Linked DNA regions of Homo sapiens: region 2 is reported to be linked to region 1. The links are microRNA targets in miRTarBase. Many come from high-throughput screens and were not tested one by one. Region 1 holds a microRNA gene; the other region holds the end of a gene's coding sequence.

Evidence for each region. Region 1 holds the annotated microRNA hsa-miR-4774-5p (UCUGGUAUGUAGUAGGUAAUAA, at 1,392-1,413, opposite strand). A microRNA usually pairs through its seed, bases 2 to 8, with sites in the 3' UTR of a target mRNA and lowers its output. Matches are read on the target gene's strand: a 7mer-m8 pairs with bases 2 to 8, a 7mer-A1 pairs with bases 2 to 7 and ends in A, and an 8mer does both.
Region 2: the mRNA of DESI1 is a reported target of hsa-miR-4774-5p. Seed matches in the 3' UTR shown: 7mer-A1 at 1,100-1,106.

What each region holds. Positions count from the first base shown.
Region 1 is chr2:168,580,366-168,584,365 of GRCh38, reverse strand. MIR4774 (microRNA 4774) reads right to left here and starts at 1,423; the gene lies at 1,348-1,423. All of the region lies in intron 3 of CERS6 (ceramide synthase 6), which reads right to left.
Region 2 is chr22:41,597,607-41,602,134 of GRCh38, reverse strand. DESI1 (desumoylating isopeptidase 1) reads left to right here. Exons shown (of 6, transcript NM_015704.3): 6 at 945-4,107. The coding sequence ends at 1,038. Among named protein-coding and RNA genes, the nearest start is that of PMM1, 10 kb to the right of the region's middle.

The DNA of each region.
Region 1 (4,000 bases):
CTGAAAAACCAACAGCAAAAGGTTTGTTAATTTCCACAGAGGGGTATCACGCAAACAGCAAAAACATGGGAATTGAGAAACCTAAAAAACATTTTTCTTTTAAAGATACAGTTTCACTGCAGCTCACTGGCAGTATTCATTATGTCTGTGACTCAGCTATAAAAAAGGAATGAGCAATACCTGCATCTTTGGAGAAAGTTAATCTTAAAAGCAGCTTTGATTACTTAGGAAATTACTTAGGAAGCATAGGCATTAGGGCCAGTCACACACAGATCCTGACTCTCACTACCTATCGTGGGTAAACTGCTTAACCTTTTGAAAATTAGGGTAAAATCATCTACCCAATGAGAGTGTTGGAAGGATTAAATAAGATGACTAAGGAAGCGATCTTGGTACATTCTAAGTATTCAGTACATGTCAGTACATGTCAGATGCTGTCATGATGGCAAAAGGCCAGGTCATGATGGCAAAAGGCCATTACAATAATCGCCAAACAGAGAATATTCACAAGGCCTCGAAAAGCAGCCAGCACAGAGTCAGCATTCATTTTATTGAATGATAGAATGAATTCCATATCCATGGATGACAAATAATGATACATCAGAGCAGGAAGGCAAATAAAATTACAGGAATAAATGGACCCTGTAGCCTTTCAACTAACTACAAACTCCAGACAACCTAGTCCTCTAAAGGTCCTGCTTCATGCTCATTATCTTCTTCTCATAGTTCAAACAACCCTGACAATATTAAGGGATGGCATTTTAAAATTATTCTCTAAAAGCCTAATGACTGGTTTGGTCTAAGACCCAGGGAGGCCACCCAAGAGGCCTGAGCTCATAGCATGTGGTTAAACTGCAATCTACTCCTCAAATTCGAAAGAGAAAGCAAATGAAAAAGAAGCAAGGAAAGCTAAAAAGATTCTGTAGTTGGCTGAAAAATGATCTATAGTTAGGCTTTGCCCCTATCCAAATCAGAGTGGGGCTGTTTCTTGAATGTCAGAACTGAAGTGTCTTCTTCTCTCACACTTTTCTTAGCTCATTTCCCAATCACTTTCTTGGTGGAGTCTCTCTTTGCCAAAAGGACATGCCCGTCAATCAACACACACTACTTATTTGTACCTGTCTCGACGCCCTCCCCATCACTATCTATTCCTACACCACACTGTCATTAGTGCATATTTCTAAGGTTCAAAATTTTACAAGATTCTTGTCCTATAAGAGCGATTTTCTGCTTAACACTACCAAATTGATCAGTCTGTGCTGTGTATATCAACCATTCCCTCAAGCCAGCCAAATTTGATTAAATGTACATTTGTCTATGCATTATTTTGTAACTGCAAGCCTTGCCTATGTTGTTTTCTGGCACATGTTAGGCAATTGTCTGTTTGTCAGTTATTACCTACTACATACCAGACAACAATATAGGCTAATCTATAGCTTTCATGTCTTTCAAAGGCCATGCCCATCAAGGCCCCTCTATACCATAACTGTACACTGTGGGTGCTTGGGAAGGATGGCTATTTCACTGGCTCACTATGAAATCACCAGCTATTTCACTAGCTCACTGTGAATCCAGGCACCTAAAGCTGTTGTATGTATGCAATTTCAGTAAACTGCAGCAGTCAAATTTGGGAATTGCACTGGACACAAGGTCAAACTGACCTTGTTTAACTTCACATCAATATTAAAATAATGCATCACGTAAAATAAAGGTGTATGAAAATTCTAGTTTTCAAAATCCTGACTGACCACATTTGAAACCTTATGTTTGCATAGCACGCGTTTTTTTTTCAGTACTAGATGATAGTTATTAAATGATTTAAGGTCTTATTAATACTTCCTTTCCCAGACACAGCAGGCTAGGCTAGTCAGACAAACCCCTTGCTCTCTATTTAAAACAACTAAACTTCTCAACTTAAAAAATATCCTTAAAAGCATCAGAGGTGACAAGATAGTAAGAAGCTCTCAGGATAAAAATCTAAGGGAAACTAGGAACCCAGAGACCTAAGTAGAACACCACAGCTCCTTCTGGCCCAAAGGCATCTCCACCATGAGTTAATCTGGGTTTCTGTTTTGGCAGCCCCTGGAGGAAAGGGGGAAGAATCTAGGCCCAGTGCCTACCTAATGTGGAGGATATTATAGAAGACACTGCGCATATTAAGCTGGGACCCCAAGATATAACATCCATAGGATGAGTGTGTGCCATACATAAACCCTACCTCTACCCCCAATTCTGGGAAACTTCAGGGATGGTTGCCTTGACACTAAGCAGAAGAAGAGAAAAAGGGAAAGGAAAATAACACCATGAGAAGTTGTGGTAAGAGACCCACAACTGTGATCATGACCAAGGTGGTTACGGTCATGGGGAGTTAGCCCAGGTGGGCCTGGGAGTCATGGTAAGTCATGTGCTTGGTCTGGGGTGATCCTGGGCTGGGGTATCGTCCATGCCGGACAGGAGCATAAGCATAAACTCTCTGAGAGAATCATCATCTTCCTAGGCCTCAAGATTCTCCCTCCTTAATATTTCCTAAGAACAAAGAGTAGTACACAATTAAGCACACAAGGAAAAACAGGTTCCATGAATCAGAATCAGAAACACACCCGCAAATACTGGAACTGTCAAATACAGATTGTAAAACAACTATGCTTCCCCTATGTAAAAAAATAAAAGACCACATAAAAAGTATCTGCAAAGAACAGGAAACTATGAAAACTGAACAAGCAGGTTTTTAAAAGATGAAACAGAACTTTTATAAATAAAAATATATATTAACCAAACTAAAAACTAGAAGGAGAAGATAATAAACAGAAATAGTTAAAAGGGAATTAGTGATTTGAAAGATATGTCAGATGACATCTAACATATGGCCAGAGAAACAGAAACAATGAACAACATGGAAGGGAAGTTAGAACTCATGAGGGTAGTGAGAGGATCTAAAATACATTTAACTGTAATTACAGAAAACGAAAATAGTGAGAGTAGAGAAGCAGCAATATTTAAAGAAGTAATGACTGAGAATTTTCCAGAACTGATAAAGATAGCAATTGGGCCAGGCATGGTGGCTCACGCCTGTAATCCCAGCACTTTGGGAGGCCAAAGCAGGTGGATCACTACAGGTCAGCAGTTCAAGACCAGCATGACCAACATGGTGAAACACTGTCTCTACTAAAAATATAAAAGTTAGCCAGGTGTAGTGGCACTCACCTGTAATCCCAGCTACTTGGGAAGCTGAGGCAGGAGAATTGCTTGAGCCTGGGAGGCAGAGGTTGCAGTGAGCCAAGATTGCACCACTGCACTCCAGCCTGGGTGACAGAGTAAGACTCCATCTCAAAAAAAAAAAAAAGATAGCAATCCATAGATTCATAGATTTAAGAAGGCCCAGAGAATCTCGAGAGGAATACATATATTTTTAATTGCAATACAGAAAGACAAAGACTAAGGGGAAAATCTTGAAGCCTACAGGGATAAAAAGGGCATTATCTTCAAAGGAATGACAGAGTGACTATGGCTTCTCTGTGGCAAGCATGTAAGCAAGAAGACAGTGCGATGATATAATCATTATACTGAAAGGAAATAACTGCTAGACTAGAATTCTATACTCAGAGAAAAAATCTTCAAGAATGAGGAAGAAATAAACTCATTTTCAGACAACAAAAACCAAGAGATTTCATCTCTAGCAGGCCTCAAGGATCTTCAGACAAAAATTAAAGTGATTCCAAATGGAAGGTCTGGGTACAAAAATGAATTAAAAACAAAAAAAGTGGTAAATATGTGTGCAAATCTTTAAAAAATTGTCTCTGTTGTTTAAGGTTAATAATGTCTCTAAGATTAAAAATACAGAATAAAAGGCATGACAAAAGTAACTTAAGTCAGAAGAGGGAACATGGAAATAAAATACTCTAAACACCTTGGATTTTCTAGGAGGGTAAAAGAGGGGTCAACATTGGATTTTGATAACTTAGGTATACCCGTTGTAATTTCTAGGATAACCACCAAAATA
Region 2 (4,528 bases), not on the chromosome of region 1:
GTTTCTGGGCAACCTTATTTATGGTTGTCGTAATCATGGAAAATCTCCAAACTCCAGTATTTGTAGTTTTTTTTCCATCTGTTACTATGAGAGCAACCTAGGAGCCCTTTAGAAAGGCATTAATGGCTGGGCCCAGTGGCTTATGCCTGTAATCCCAGCACTTTGGGAGGCCGAGGCAGGCAAATCACTAGGTCAGGAGTTCGAGACCAGCCTGGCCAACATGGTGAAACCCCATCTCTACTGAAAATAAAAAATTAGCCAGGCGCAGTGGCACACGCCTGTAATCCCAGCTACTTGGGAGGCTGAGGCAGGAGAATTGCTTGAACCTGGGAGGCAGAGGTTGCAGTGAGCCGAGATCACGCCATTGCACTCCAGCTCTAGGCTAGAGGTAGACTCTGTCTCGGGGTGAAAGAAAGGCATTAATACTGGCAACCTAGCATTTGTCATTTTTCCAGAATATTCCCTGTACTCCCTGGCAGACCTCTGTTCCTGAAAAAAATCCAGTTGTTTGCTGTCCTCACCCCTTTGTCTTCTTTTTCATATCCTTCTTCTTTTGCCTCAGTTTCCCTGCTTAAATTTGATCTTTTCCTTGCTCACAAGAATTAAAGACACAAGCACATAGAGCACAGAAAGTTCTAGTTCTCTGTATGTAGCCAGCCTACTCAAACCACAGCTAACCAGGCTCTAGAGGTGAGGCCCTGAGGAGGGAACCCCAGGAATAAAAATACAGAGCAGGCTATTTCGGAGATGCCCTCCAAGAACACTGGTGTGTGAGGCAGGTGGGAAACTTAAGTGAGGTGACGAGGTGCTCTTTCCTTCTCTGCTGGTGCTGCTTCTGCTGCCACCAGCGCCCACTCCTCCTCCCTACCCGTGGGCAGCACAGGGTGTGTGACAGCAGGCCACATCCCAGAGCCCACCCCTCTCATGTCTCTGTTTCCTTGCAGGCCCTTTGGACAGGCACTTCGGCCCCTCCTGGACTCCATTCAGATCCAGCCTCCAGGAGGGAGCTCCGTGGGCAGACCCAACGGCCAGAGCTAACAGGACTGCCTGGGACCGCCCTGCCTCACCAGGGCTTTTCCTTTTTAAACAAAACAAACCCTACCAGATTTCTATTTTATAATTTTACATCAGAGCTAACAACCAGGGGACGGCTTTTTAAATTTCCCAGGGAAGGAGACCGTCAGGCCGCATGTAGACAATGCTGCTAAGAAACAGAACAAAATGCCACCCCTTCTAATAGTATTATACTAATTTATTAAGGCTGTCTTGTCTGTGCGTTCACTTCGGATGCTGTTTCCTAAGCGTCCTCCACACTGGAGAAAGGGAGGGGCTTTGTTTAAACAGAAAGCGAGTCACAGTTTGCGGGAGCCCCAACCTAGAACTCTTTCCAGAGAACACTCACGCTCTACCCAAGTTGCCAACACCTGTGGGACCCAGGTGAGTTTTAGAACATCCGTGACCCAGAAAGTTACTCTAGTGTTAAATGAACCAAAGGATTTGGTGTACATGGGACCGGTTTCAGGATGACTAACCTAACCTAAGTGAACTCTTTAGCCACAACCCTCACCTTCCCTCCCTTACCCCAAGCAAGGCCAGTGCTGGAGCAGCCATTGCCTCCGGATCAAGGGAGTAACAGCAAGTATCAGGCCGGAGAAAACAGGATAAAGCCATTCCTCCTTCCACCTAGATGGATTGCCAATCTTCTGCCATCAATTTTGGGAAACCTGCCTTTGTGCCCCCGAGGCTGCCTTTCCTCAGCATAGCTGACTTGTCATAGTGGATGAGGTCTGGGCTGGAGCAGTAGAAGCCAAGGCCTTTTTTCTGCAAGTAATGATGTAGGTTATTTGCAGTCTCTGTAACCACCATCCAGGCCAGTACGCAGTATTTAGCTGGGGACCAAGGGATGGGATTCCCTACTCTAAGAAAATACCTTTATTTTAATTATTATTATTTTTTGAGACGGAGTCTCGCTCTACCACCCAGGCTGGTGTGCAGTGGCATGATCTCGGCTCACAGAAACCTCTGCCTCCCGGGTTCAAGTGGTTCTCCTGCCTCAGCCTCCTGAGTAGCTGGGATTACAGGTGCGTGCCACCACGCCAGGCTAATTTTTGTATTTTCAGTAGAGACAGGGTTTTGCCATGTTGGCCAGGCTGGTCTGGAACTCCTGACCTCGGGTGATCCACCTCCCTTGGCCTCCCAAAGTGCTGGGATTACAGGCGTGAGCCACCGCTGCCTGGCCAGAAAATACCTTTGATATGGAAAGAATAATGATGTGAGGCCTGGCGCGGTGGCTCACGCCTGTAATCCCAGCACTTTGGGAGGCCGAGGCAGGCAGATCACTTGAGGTCAGGACTTCAAGACCAGCCTGGCCAACATGGTGAAACCCCGTCTCTACTAAAAATACAAAATTAGCCGGGCATGGTGGCGCATGCCTGTAGTCCCAGCTACTCGGGAGGCTGAGGCAGGAGAATCGCTTGAACCCGGGAGGCAGAGATTGCGATGAGCCGAGATCGTACCAGTGCACTCCAGCCTGGGCGACAGAGTGAGACTCCATCTCAAAAAAATAAAATAATGAAGTGGAATCAAGGTGGCAAGAAAATTTAGAATCGTTTCTGATAGGGACTTTCCCTTATCCTAAATGTGTTTTGAAGGCACACGTTATTTCCATTGTCATTCTGACTTTAGAAAGGCAGGTTGGGGCATGAGTGGGCATTTTCCTAATGACTTGCTGCTAGGAGGTTATAGGCAGGGAACAGTCTGGGAGTCTCTAATCCAGAGAGACTTTCAGATTCCCTCTCTTCACATGAACCTCCATTAGTTAGATTTTGGGAAAGTGAGCATGAAGAAGGGACTCAGAGCTGCCAGGTACCCGAGTCTCAGGTCTGACATCCTTGGGCCCCTTCTGCCACAACTTCTTGCCACTTCACGGACTTGAATTATGTTGCTTCTTCCTGGAAGTCTGGCCTGCAGCACAGGCCTTTCCTCTCCAAAAAGCTGCTGCTCATTTCTGGCCCCATCTGCTGCTATCTTTGCCATCAGCCATCACAGTTTGGCATCATCAGAGTCTCAGCTAGAGGAGCTGTCATTCTGCCTTAGTGTTTGCCTGCGACCTGACCAGGGGCATGACCAGCTGGGATGTCAAGTGACATTTGGGAACTTGTAGAGGCCAAATGATTGAAAGTTTAATTCTTCTCAAGACCCACTGATTTGCCAGTGTGCATGGAAATAATAGATTAGAGCAGAAACTAGCAGGGACTGTTGTATAATCGTGATCTACTAGCAGAATTGGGCCCAAAGAGAAAGAATTTCTGAGGCTGGGTTTCTTCTGGGAGGGTAGCAGGTTGGTCTTGGCCAGTGCTCTGTTTCCCACCAGTGTTGTTCCCTTTTCCAGCTTGCCTGGCCCGGCTCTGTCTTCCAGGGTCCTGCTCCAGACCCCTCTGCCTGGGGTCTCCCCTCCATCCAGGGGGTTCTGGGCATCACAGCTCCTTTTTTTCCTTTCTCCTCTTCCAGATCCAGTTTCAGCTGGTTTGCTTCTTCCAGCAGGCACCCTTAGGCCCAGGAGCAGCTCCCCTGAGAGAATTTGAGTCACTCATTTCCTTGAACAGCACCCCCCTTTATACTAGCAGCCATTTGTGCCATTGCCTGTGCCCTAGGGTTTGTGGGGAGAGAGCGAGGGATCACTGAGCAGTTTTCCCAGAGCTCCATGGGAAGGCAAGCTCTCCCTCCCAATGGGAGCCCCACTGTCACTAACTGTAAACTCAGGCTCAGGCTTCAACTGCCTACCCCCATCCTCATATTTCTGTCTGTCCCAGCACCTCAGGAGCATTCTCATTGTGGCCGGCTAACTCCGCCTGGATGTGAACAGGCAAGCACAGTGGGAAATGAGTCACGTACTTGTATTGCACAGTGGACACCTCTAGAGGTCCATTGGTTTAAAGGGATAGGGAAGGAGGAGGGATGAGACCATCACCCCCTCCCAGAAGTAAATCTAGTATCTGAGTTTTCTTTATGCCCTTGAGTCAAACTAATAACTGTCTAGTACGGAGGTGTTTGCTGGTTTTCTTCGGTGTTTTTTCTAATGCAATAAACTCATTTCTGCCTGCTGCATTTGTGTGGTGCCTGAATCAGGTCTGCACATGCATCCAACATGAAGCGACCCCAGGCTTTTGGGTCCCTTGGAGCTTAAGTCTGCGGGGTCTGGATGTGTCTCCTTTGCATGGTTGTGAGCCTGTAGATAAGAAGTGATAACAGGGAAGGATGTCTGAATTTCACCACTGGTTTATAAAGATGGGGGAAGGGCCCAGAGAGAATATCACTTGCCCAAGGTCACCTTGCAGCTGGTGCAGCTCAATGCTTTGTCTGATAACTTCAAATTCTGTAGTCTTCCTCTAGCTATCAGGAGTGTCTGACCTCACCGAAAAGTGTTCACTTCTACTTTCAACTTGGCTCTAGGTTGGGTCTGTGGCTCCTCATGCCCAGACAGGCTGTAGCTGAGAGGGCACGCAAGGAGCCTAGTGGGGGCCTGGCA